Regions from separate parts of the Homo sapiens genome. Here all the other regions are reported to be linked to region 1. Evidence: microRNA targets listed by miRTarBase, many of them from high-throughput screens and not tested one by one. Region 1 holds a microRNA gene; each other region holds the end of a gene's coding sequence.

Region 1 (4,000 bases):
CTCCCACTATTATTGTGTGGGAGTCTAAGTCTCTTTGAAGGTCTCTAAGAACTTGCTTTATGAATCTGGGTGTTCCTGTTTTGGGTGCACATATATTTAGGACAGTTAGCTATTCTTGTTGAATTGAACCCTTTATCATTATGTAATACTCTTCTTTGTCTTTTTTGATATTTTTTGGTTTAAAGTCTTTTTTTGTTAGATGCTAGGATTGCAATCCCTGCTTTTTTCTGTTTTCTATTTGGTTGGTAAATTTTCCTCCATCCCTTTATTTTTAGCCTGTGTATGTTTTTGCGTGTGAGATGGGTCTCTTGAAGACAGCTTACCAGTGGGTCTTGGTTCTTTATCCAGCTTTTTACTCTGTGTCTTTTAATTGGAGCATTTAAGGTTAATACTGTTATGTATGGATTTGATCCTGTGATCATGATGCTAGCTGGTTATTTTGCAGACTTGTTTATGTAGTTGCTTTATAATGTCACTGGTCTGTATACTTCAGTGTATTTTTGTAGAGGCTGGCAACAGTTTTCCCTTTTTATATTTAGTGCTTCCTTCAGGAGCTTTTATAAAGCAGGTCTGGTGGTAACAAATTCCCTCAGAATTTGCTTGTCTGAAAAGGATCTTATTTCTTCTCTTATGAAGCTTAGTTTGGCTAGATATGTAATTCTGCATTGGAATTTCTTTTCTTTAAAAATGTTGAATATTGTCCCCCAATCTCTTCTGGCTTGCATGGTTTCTGCTGAGAGGTCCACTGTTAGTCCAATGGGCTTCCCTTTGTAGGTGGCCTCGCCTTTCTTTCCAGTGGCCTTTGACATTTTTTATTTCATTTTGACCTTGGAGGATCTGATGATTACATGTTTTGGGGACGATCTTCTTGTGGAGTAAGTATCTTACTGGGGTTCTCTGCATTTTCTGAATTTGAATGTTGGCTTCTGTAGGTAGGTCAGGGAAGTTCTCCTGGATGATATCCTGAATTATGTTATCCAAAATGGTCCCATTCTCCTCATCTTTTTCAGGTACCCCAATCAGTCATAGATTCAGTCTCTTTACATAATCCCATATTTCTTGGAGGTTTTGTTTATTCCTTTTCATTGTTTTTCTCTATTTTTGTCTGCCTGTGTTATTTCAGAATGACATTCTTCAAGCTCTGAGATTCTTTCTTCTGCTTGGCCTATTCTGCTATTAATACTTGTGATTGCATCGTGAAGTTCTTGTTGTGTTTTTTTCAGCTCTATCAGGTTGGTTATATTCCTCTCTATACTGGCTATTTTGGCTGTCAGCTCCTGCATTGTTTTATCATGATTCTTAGCTTCCTTGCATTGAGTTGCAAAGTGCTCCTTTAGCTCAGTGAAGTTCATTTTTTAGATCCACATTTGGAATCCTATTTCTATCATCTCAGCCATCTCAGCCTCAGTCCAGTTCTAAATCCCTGCTGGAGAGGTGTTGTGGTCATTTAGAGGAAAGGGAGCACACTGGATTTTTGAGTTTTCTGTGTTTTTGTGCTGATTCTTTCTCATCTTTGTTGGCTTATCTACCTTTGATCTTTGAGGTTGTTGACCTTTGGATGGGTTTTTGTTGTTGTTGTTCTTGTTGTTTTGCTCGTTTTTTCTTTGAACAGTCTGACCACTTTTCTGTAGGGCTGCTATGATTTGCTGGGCGGCTGCTTCAGACCCTAGTCACCTCAGTTTTTTCAGTACCTGTAGGTATTACCGGTGAAGGCTGCAAAACAGCAAAGATGGCAGCCTGCCCCTTCCTCTCAGAGCTCTGTCCCAGAGAAGTACTGACCTGTTGCCAGCCTGAATGCACCCATAGGATGTGGCTGGAAACCCTGTTTTGGAGGTCTCACCTAGTCAGGAGGAATGGGATCAGGGACCTCCTTAAAGAAGCAGCCTTCCTGCGTTTTTGTAGAGCAGCTGTGCTGTGTTTGGCTTCCCTTCACCCCCATATAGTTTTGCACTTTCCAAGGCCCACAGGTTGGACTGGGTGAGATGCCCAAACAGCACAGGTGGCAGCCCACCTGGCCCCCTGGGCACTCCATCACAGGGAGAAATTAGAACTTTGTCAGCCATAGAACATGGGTGAGGGTGGTTGGAAGCACTGGTTGGGAGGACCTGCCCAGCAAGGAGGAATGGATTGGGGTTCTATTTAAAGAAGCAGTCTGGCCACACCTTGACAAAACAGCCATGCGTTGCTGGGGATCCATCTCTGCCTGTATTGGCTTGGATTCTGCAAAGCCTACAGGCTGGAATGGGCTCAAAGCAACATTGGCAGCTCATCCCTCCCCACTGGGCACTCCAGCCAAGGGAGAGATCAGAGTTCTTTCCTAGAATATGGGCAGGGGTGGCTGGAGGTCCCTATTGGGAAGTCCTGCCCAGTGGGGTGGAATGGATTGGGGTCCCACTTAAAGAAGTAGTCTGGCCACATTTTCATAGAGCAGCTGTGCTGTGCTGTGCTGGGGGTCCCTTACTTGTCCAGACTGTTTGGACTCTCCAAAGCCCACAGACTTGAACAGCTGAGTTGTCCAAATAACAAAGGTGACAGCCCACCCCTTTCCCTGGCAGCTCCATTCCATCTCAGGCAGGCACTACCCTGTTGCTGGTGGCTGGCTGAAGTTCCAAGCCAGTGGGTCTTATTTTGTGAGGTGCCTTGGAAATGGGGCCCACAGATGGACGCTGTTCAGCTCCCTGGATTCGGCCCCCTTCCTAGGGGTATGTATGGACCTCCCGCCTTGACTGAGTTGTAGTCACCTTTGCCAGGGATCCTGTGGCTGGGGTATGTAAATCTCCTGGGTCTCTGTGCATACCTGAGTGGCTGCCCTGCTGAGACTCCACACAGCTCTGTGTATCTGACCCAAGGTCCTGGTGGAGTGGGTTTATGAGGGGATCTCCTGATCTGAGGGTTGCAAAGATCCATGGGAGAAATGTGGTTTCCCAGGGTGGCACATTCACTTACCACTTCCTTGGCTGGGGTGGGGGTTCCCTTGGCTTTGCGTCACTTCCAGGTGGGCTATCATCCTGCCCTACTTTTCTCTGTTTTCTGTGGATTGGTTATTTCCCTGATCAGTCCCAGTGCGAAAACCTGGATATTTCAGTTGAAGGTGCTGTATTTACTCACTGCTTTTCTTCCTCTTTATGAGTGCCATGCACCATAGCTACTTCTAATTGGAGGTCTCGGCCCACTCTCTGCTCTTCATCTTTCTCAATTCTCTTTTCTGTATTTTTGTCTGACTGTGTTAATTGAAAGAATTGCTCTTTGAGCTCTCAGATTCTTTCCTCAGCTTGGTCTATTCTGCTGTTAATACTTCCAATTATATTATGTAATTTTTGTAGTGAATTTTTCAGCTCAAGAAATTAAGTTTTTGTCTCTCTTTAAGTGAGAATTTCACCTTTCAGCCCTTGAATCATTTTACTGGATTGCTTGGCTTCCTTGGATTGAGTTTCAACTTTCTTCTTGATCTCAATGAGCTTCTTTGCCATCCATATTTTGAATTCTATGTCTGTCATTTCAGATAATTCAGACTGGTTAGGAAACATTTCTGGGGAGCTAGTGGGCTCATTTGGAGGTAAGGGGGCAGTGTGGCTTTTTGAATTGCCAGAGTTCTTATGCTGATTCTTTCTCATCTGGGAGGGATGGTATTCTTTTAATTGTGGTGTAAATTGAGTGTACTTTGTTGGCTTTGTTTCTGAAAGTTTTTAGAGAACTAAGGCTCTGTATGGTGTCTTCGTTGCAGAATTCTTACTCTTGGTTTTGCAAGGGCAGGATTAGTAAAGTGATTTTGGTGTTGTAGTTTGGGCTACAATCTAGTAGATGGTCCTTGAGAGCAATGGGCAGTAGATAGGCTTCTACTCAGCCTTGTGGTTCCTTTGTCTATGTTAACATTTGCAGCTGTGTTCTGCAGTGCAAGGGGGAAATAGATGACCCCCTCATCAGGTCTGCTTGGGGGAGCCACATCCAATCACTAGCACTGTACCTTCGATTTTGTTGTTGTTTTTATTAGGTCTTTGGG
Region 2 (4,000 bases), not on the chromosome of region 1:
AATCCCAGCTACTTGGGAGGCTGGGAAAGGAGAATCTCTTGAACCCAGGAGGCGGAGGTTGCAGTGAGCTGAGATCGCACCATTGCACTCCAGCCTGGGCAACAGAGCGAGACTCTGTCTCAAAAAAAAAAAAAAGTTGCACTGCACATTCACAAAAAGCCACTCTCCTTGGCTGCATTGGAGACCCTGTATGATCTGGCCTCAGGCCACCCTGACGGCCCTGTTTCCCTCTGCCCCCCTCACCCCGACCCTCCAGTCCTGCTCCTTCCAACCCCGACACATTCCATATGTCTCCGTCTCCTGAAGACTCAGACCCTCCTAAGGAAAAAGGTGCGGGTCTTGGTGATCTTTTTATCTACCCTGGTGCCTGGCAAGCAACAAACAAATATCATCAGCAGAAAGCCAGGCTCAGCTGAGATCATGAGAGCCCAGGAAGCAGTTATATCAGGAGTAACAACCTGGGTCACAGCAGGCCCAGGACCCTGGAAGCTGAGCTCCCCTATATGGGAAAGGAAGAACTAAAGCCAAACTTCAAGTGCCCTTCCAGAGCCTGAGCTCATCACTGAGAACCTCTGTCTGTCCCTTCTCCTGCAAAGAGAAGGACACAGGTGGGAGAGGAGCATGGGGTGGGAACAAGGTCAGACATAGGCCTGTGGTGGTTTGATCTGTTCCATACCTAGGATGGGGACTGGAGCCTGCTCAGCTTTCACCTTCCAGCGTTACCTGGAGCAACCCTGTGGGGAGCTGTAGGCTGTCCCCATAGACTTCTGAGATGTCTTTCTTTCTCTCCATCTGCAGGAAGATGTCAGAGCCCCAGTCTTTTCCCTAGGAGAGGCTTCCCTAGATGGTGGGAGTCCTGGCCCAGGCCACTGTGGGTTTTACGAAGTTGAAGGTCCTGGTTCGGTGATGGCACAGGGGCACACATAATAACTTCCTGCCTTTCAGGGAGCACAGCTCAGCTCCACAGCAGGACACCTGAGCAGCCAGAAGCTAGAAAGATGCAAGCCTGCCTCCAAGTGGTCACATGTCATAACTGCAGCCCACAACCCAGACCCTCCAGGCAGAGGTGCCTGGGCAGCATTGACTATGGCAGGCCAGGCAGCCACCATCATCTGGCTCTGAAGATTCCACGTGCTCAGGTGAAAGAGAGGTGCCGGTTCTACATGAGCAAAGGAGCATCAAAGTGTCACACACACATGCATTCAGACTTTCACCTTTTATCATGGTTTTAGAAATAAGGATGCATAGGCCAGGTGTGGTGGTTCACGCCTGTAATCCCAGCACTTTGGGGGGCCGAGGCAGGCAGACTACCTGAGGTCAGGAGTTCGAGACCAGCCTAGCCAACATGACGAAACCCCATCTCTACTAAAAATACAAAAAATAGCCGGGCGTGGTGGCACACGCCTGTAATCCTAGCTACTTGGGAGGCTGAGGCAGGAGAATCGCTTGATTCAGTGGAGGTTGCAGTCAGCCAAGATCACACCATTGCACTCCAGCCTGGGTTACAAGAGCGAAACTCCGTCTCCAAAAAAAAAAAAAAAAAAAAAAAAAAAAAAGGATGCATGTTCAGTGAGGTCAAATAACCTACTCCACTTAGTTTGTAAGCATCAGTCTTGGGCCAAAAGTCATGTCCACTTGATGCTGGGATTCCACTTCAATCAAATGAGGCAATTGGACTCTACTGCAGCTAACTGCTACTTACACATCAGAATTACCCAAGGAGCTTTAAACATATTTATCTATCCCTCTGACCCAGGCTGACTGAATCAGCATCCCTGGGTGTGGGCTGGGAATGTGTCTTTTCAGCACACTTCCCCAGCAAGATAAAAGTGCCTCTGTAAACTGAGAGCAGGAAACCAGTGGGCAAGATTGTCAACTCATGGAGTCAGGGACATGTTTAATTCATTTGTGAATCCCCTGGTACTGGCACATAGAAAGCGTCCCATATTATCTGCAAAATGAATGAATGAATAAATGAGCAAGTAGGTGAATGAATGATTCTGAGGTCTCCTCCAGCTTTGATGGCCTATGACCGTGTGACTCCTGCATATGCATGAACACACAGACACAGACACTACACACATGCACAGACACACATACACACTTGGAGCAAAGAGGGATGAAGCCTGCCACACTGCAGGTGGTCCTAGCTGCCTGACCTCCCTTCCTCACACACTGACACACCTCCCTCTTTGTTGACCTGTTATTTATTGTGCACCCATTGGGTGCATGGCCTAGCCCTAGGCCCTGGCCGGAGACCCAAACATGGCCTCCAAGGGCCAACCTTACTTTGTGGAGGTGCAAGCCCCAGAGCTGGTTACAAGCATGGGAAGGGAGGAGGGTGGCCTAGCAGGAAGGCTGGGGAGGCAGTGTGTCAGCCGGCAGGCAGCAGCGGGTAGCAGAGGCCCCCTCTTGGCGGGCAGCCTACTTGCACACTTGGCTGAACAGAGACAATGGTGGCTGGTCCCTCCGGCCCAGCCTCCTTCCTACAGGCAGAGCCCCAAGTCCATGAGTCTCCGGAACCTCCCTCAGAGAACAAGCCCAGCTGGGAGGCAGCCAGAGGGCAGGATGAGGGGATTTCCCAGGGGAGAGCAGCAGAGACCCTCTGAGCTGCCAGAGATGGGGAAGGGGTCCAGGCACCCCACAGGAAGGAAGGTTTAAGGCATGTGTAGAAAGGAGCACAGAAAAGTCTCCCGAGCCTGGCCTAGGCCTCGCCTGGTCGCCAGCCTCCGTCCCATCCCTCACAACTCTCCTGAGCTGTGGCTCCTGCCAGGCAGACCCCTAAGGGAAACTGTCGCCACCTTTTACCTCTCTATCCTCTCCAGTGGTCTGAACATAGAGAACCTCCTTCTCTGCTCTGTTGGAACAAAGGCTCCTTGTTCCTAGGGTTCCAGGGTTCCCTGCAAAGCTCTGGAGGCCCCACCCCGCCCAGCCCTCACTCATGCCATCAGCTCTGCTCTGTTGATGAGCAGTTGGGTATGTGAGACTGTTTCATCTACTTCGGGGGAAAGGAGACACAAGGAGACAAAGGCACAGGGCCCCACAGCCGTGCAGAGCCCTTGAAGCCCCCCGAGGTCCCTGCCCAGAAGGCTGTCCCCTCAGTGGGCAGGACCTTAGCGACCCTGCTCCCTGGGTCACAGGAGGCTGGTTAGGAATTTCTCAAGAGTCCCTGATTCACTCTCCTGGGGCCTCCCCAGGAAGGTCACCTAATTCCCAGAGCAAGACCATCCTTGGGGCTGTGGCTCCCCTGGCTGGGCTGCCCAGGGGCCTCTGCTGCCCCAAGCTCTCCCCCAGAAGCCAAGGGCACACCACATAAGCACTGGTTCTCAAACAAGTGCTGAGTTCTCAGCAAGTCTAGGAAATGAGGCCACTCTGGATTCTGGGGCCTGGAGGGTGACATGGGCTGAGCTCTGGGAGGAAAGTCAAGTCCTCACCTCCCTCTTCCCTTGGGCGTGGCCAGGGACTGGGGCTGCGGAGGGACTGCCATGGGGGTGGTGGGGAGCACAGCAATATTAGGAAAGCTTCAGGGAGCACAAGAATGAGGGCCACAGGGAAACAAGGTTTGTCCTTCAGCAGGGAAAGGAGGTGCCTCATCCGTCATGGTGGACTCATTGAAATAAGTCTCCTCCAGGGAGGTTCATCTCAGGTCTACCCTGGAGCAGGGAACAGTGTCTCTGAGGTGGTGCTGGCTTCACAGCTGATTGCGGTTCCGCTTAGGGATGATCTTCCGGTAGGTTCTGCGCTCTGAGATGTTGCGCTTCACCTTGGCCGTGGTGGGAGCCTCATCCTGGTGCAGGGACGGGCTCGAGTGGGACTTCTTCAGGCTGAGCTTGGGCTCCCGAGTGCCTCCAGCTTCCCTCCCCAGCTGCTCCTCCCACAGGTCCAGAGCATCAGAGGGGCAGTGCAGGCGGGCCACCAGCAGCTGCACGTAGGTCTCGTAGCGGGTTTTCTGCAACACACAGGCCCCACCACCTTAGCACCATCCTGGCTCCAGGTTGGG
Region 3 (4,000 bases), not on the chromosome of region 1:
GAAATTACTCCCTGCAACAGGAGGAATAGAAATGAAGCAGTGAGTGTTCAGAAATTAGATCTACAAGAAGTTTTGCAAACAGACCCTCAGGGCCAGGCAATGTTTGTTTTTGTTTTTTGTTTTTTGTTTTTTTTTTTAATCTGAAGCCCCTGATTTTATTTTTCCAGCATCACTCTAAGGAAGAGTGTGGATTAGTGCCATTATTCAGGGCTGGTATTAATAAAAGTTAGCTTTTATCTGCAGGGCTAGGTTAAGGCTGGCATTCTTACTTTTACATTAAAAAAACTGGCTACAGGCTGCGCAGCTGAGGTACTTCAGTCATGTGCCTTCTCTAAAGGATTCTTAGATCCTTAAAATATATAGTATGTTTTAAGTTTGTATCTAAATAGCACTTACTGTAATGTATTATACCTAAATGTTTATTAAAAGTTAGAAGAAATGAGTACCAACAGGAAGGAATGGAAGAGAGGAGAGGGGCTAAGACATTGCTGATCTGAGGGACAGACCTCTATCAAATAGAAGAGGGCTGGGAGAAGGGGTGATTAGAAGCAGAGTGAGGGAACTAAATGGAGCCCTGACTGCACCAAATAAAGTTCTCATTTTGCTGCTTGTTCCAAATAAATTAGTGTCTATTTGTGTAATGCAGACTAAATGCCAGTTGTGTAAAGCCAATCAATGCAGAAGCAAGCTAAGAACTAGGAGGAAAAATTAATTGCTTGGCCATCATTCCTTTTGGGACCACATAACCTCCGTGGTGGGGCTCAAATGGACATCATTTCTCTCTTATGCACCTCTCTTTTCAAACTTCTCACTCTCTGGACAGCTTGCTCTTTTCTTAACCATTTATAGGAAATTGCAAAACTTGCATCTTTATGAGCTAGAATTTGGAGCCCAAGGAAAAGCACAGAGTAGCATGAGATGCCAGAAGAGGCCCATTTCCTTCCACAGGGATGAGAACCAAAAACCAAAGAATAGAGAGTAGGGTATAGGTAGATTTAAGTCAGGTTGACGTCCTATGGAAGGCATATGCCATTATTTATGTGGTAACCTGCATGTTCTTGTGAGAACAGGGGCTGGCCAGGACCTGAGGCTTTCCCCAGCAGCCTGGCATATAATATAAGGCAGCTTCCTTTGGTAAATTCATTCAGCCCTATTGTTGAGTTCAGACTGACCATGACCCCCTTACCTCTCCACTACCCCAAAGCTTTCCTCAAGATGTCAGCTGTTCTCTTCCCCTCCCATTTCCCCCTCCTTAATCCCACCATTGGCTCATCAGTTATCCAGTTGACTCCATTCTGAAGGAAGACATTCTCTTGGCCTGACTCACTCAGGCCCATTTCTCCACAGGCATCCCCTTACCGCAGACCACAAGGGCCCTGACTAGCTCATGTTTTGTGTTAATGGATGTGAAACCAGAGCAAATCCCCTCACCAAAAGAAAAACCACCCTAAACTCTCCCACACAGGTCTCAGCAGGTTACACAAATATTAGTCCTATCATCCAAATAAATCTGCCCCCGTGGCCCAGAGCTATGGCTCCCCCAACCTCCTGCTGCCTGTGCAGAGTGAAGCTGCTTCAAAAACATGAGGACCCCAAGGGATATTGGAGAGGAACTTTGGAAAGACAGGGGCCTGTATCCAGAATTCTTTATGCAGGCTCCTTAATCTACAGACTTTTGTTAATACTTTATAGTCCTAAAGAAGGACTGTTCCTAGAGAAGTCATGATGGGCTAGACCAGCCAGGGGCTTTGGTGAAGAGGATCTGCGGGCTGGAGTTTGGTGCATAATTAAAACTCAGCGTCTGACAGCTGGGCACAGTGGCTTGCGCTTGTACGCCCAGCACTTTGGAAGGCTGCAGTGGGAGGATTGCTTGAGACCAAGAATTCAAGACCAGCCTGGGCAACATAGTGAGCTCCATCTCTGAAAACTATGTTTAAATTAGCTGGGCATGATGGCATGGCCCTGTAGTCCCAGCTAATGGGGAGGCTGAGGTGGGAGGATTGCTTGAGCCTGGGAATTTGAGGCTGCAGTGAGCCATGATCATGCCAGTGCACTCCAGCCTGGGCAACAAAGCGAGACCCTATCTCTAAAAGAAATAAAAAGAAAGAAAAAAAAGAACAGGTACGTATCCTCATTTTACAGATGAGAAAATAGAAGCTCAGAAAATTTAGCTACCTTGCTCAAAATATCAAAGCAAATGGCACAGCTGTGATTTTTAACCCGGGTCTGTCATAACCGCAAATTTCTATACCACTCTGCTGCTTTAAGATATCAACAGGCAAAAGATAACCACTGTCCAACTCACATAAAAATAGGACATCAAGTTTTGGGGGACTTCATGTCCTACCTCCAGCTTACTAAGCCTGCTATCTCTGGAGATTCCACTACTGCAAACCTAGTTAGGCAATGGGTAATAGCATTACCCATTAAGCCAAATGTGGAGTGAACAATAATAATAATCACTAGGACTTGGAGAGTCACTAAATAAAGATTTGTTGAGTAAGTGGAGGAAGGCTGCCTTCTAAGCTGTGTATCACTTTGGCCCCAACCTGCAGTACTCCTTCCCACTGTAGCCACTGACTCCTGCTCCCAGCTTCAAAGGCTAGGATCCTCTCATAAAGAATTACCAAAGCCAGAGATCCCTACCTGCCTAATATATACTGATGCCTCATGTGGGCCCTTGAGATCAGACCTGCTTACCTGCTCTCCCACCATCCATGAGTTGCCTATCTTTCTTTTACTCCATGTCTCCCCAAACCTGGCAAACCTCCAGAATAGTGCATGGGAAGAGAAGAAAAGAAAAGAAAAAAAAAAAAAAAAAAAAGGCAACACAAGGCCTAGCCAGACTTACTACATTAATCTATCCTAGGAGTGTTCTAGGGTGTTTTAATGATTTGTTAAGCATGGGAACCACTGCATTCCACCTCAGTTTGAACAGGCAGCAAGTAAGCAAAAGAGGCAGTGCTGTCCAATACAGGTTGAGAATGGTAGAGAGAAAAAGAGAGAATGAATGTGTGTTTGTATTGTTATGATTCTTTTTCTTCTACAAAACACAGTTTATAAACATATGAGCATGTGAATGGAACCTTGTCCACTATGGCTAACATCTCAGGCTCTCAATAATAGAATGTGGTAGCCTAAGATTTTCTTTCGGGGTACCAGGTAGTTCTGCTCAAACGGACTTCAGAGAAGGGACATGCCATTCATCTTTGTCCCATCTAACTTTGGCCAGGTAGAAACAAAAAGAAGCTCTCTACAGGTACCCTTCCTCTTGCACACCAAGAAGTATCGGGAAGCTGGTGCAAAGGAAAGAAAAAAGGAGCCTCAACTACGTACTTTAGTGCAACTCATTTCACTCTAAAGACCCCCTATCTCTTCTACTCTCCCTTCAAATCTCCAGAGCGGGAAATCAGGGAGCTTGCTCAGTTTCTTATATCCCCTGACAACTCCTTCCCAGGGCTAAGGAACCAGCCAGGACACCATGGTCCCTATGGATTACTCTCTACATCCTTAAATAGAAGCGGTAGCAGCCCAGGGTGGAGGGTGGAGGAAGGTGTGCATGCAAGGATCTTGTGCTTTTGAGTTGAGAGGCTTGAATTGGAGGGATGAGTGAGGTATCTGTGTGTTCAGGTTTGGTCCAGCCACTCTGCCTTCTTGGGGGCTTTGCAAGTATGGACGTCCACAGTATTTCTGCATTCCTTGCACCGTACAGCACAGCACCAGTGGAATTTGCACTCACACTGGGTAACACGGGTGACTCGAGTTGTGTCGTACCCTCGGCCACAGCACATGATTTCACAACCGTCTGTTCCTTTTGATGTCTTGCTGCAGACACGGCCTGCAGTGCCTAGGGAACCTGGGTTGGGGAAGAGAGGGAGTGAGAACAAAGTTATCTCTTCAGCTGCCCTGGATACCCTTAACCACATTCTCAGAAGGAAGATAAAAAGAATCGCTTTTTTGGGCTGGGCACAGTGGCTCACTCATGCCTATCATCCCAGCA

What was found. Region 1 holds the annotated microRNA hsa-miR-7151-3p (CUACAGGCUGGAAUGGGCUCA, at 2,230-2,250, shown strand). A microRNA usually pairs through its seed, bases 2 to 8, with sites in the 3' UTR of a target mRNA and lowers its output. Matches are read on the target gene's strand: a 7mer-m8 pairs with bases 2 to 8, a 7mer-A1 pairs with bases 2 to 7 and ends in A, and an 8mer does both.
Region 2: the mRNA of PSD4 is a reported target of hsa-miR-7151-3p. Seed matches in the 3' UTR shown: 7mer-m8 at 2,488-2,494.
Region 3: miRTarBase lists WNT2B as a target of hsa-miR-7151-3p. Seed matches in the 3' UTR shown: 7mer-m8 at 291-297.

Annotation. Positions count from the first base shown.
Region 1 is chr10:67,401,601-67,405,600 of GRCh38, reverse strand. It overlaps MIR7151 (microRNA 7151), which reads left to right and starts at 2,191; the gene lies at 2,191-2,250. All of the region lies in intron 5 of CTNNA3 (catenin alpha 3), which reads left to right.
Region 2 is chr2:113,201,107-113,205,106 of GRCh38, reverse strand. PSD4 (pleckstrin and Sec7 domain containing 4) reads right to left here. Exons shown (of 17, transcript NM_012455.3): 17 at 1-3,949. The coding sequence ends at 3,692. Among named protein-coding and RNA genes, the nearest start is that of PSD4, 29 kb to the right of the region's middle. RefSeq lists enhancers at 783-832, 1,173-1,222.
Region 3 is chr1:112,520,136-112,524,135 of GRCh38, reverse strand. WNT2B (Wnt family member 2B) reads right to left here. Exons shown (of 5, transcript NM_024494.3): 5 at 1-3,856. The coding sequence ends at 3,627. ST7L (suppression of tumorigenicity 7 like) reads left to right here. Exons shown (of 15, transcript NM_017744.5): 15 at 1-622. Among named protein-coding and RNA genes, the nearest start is that of WNT2B, 13 kb to the right of the region's middle.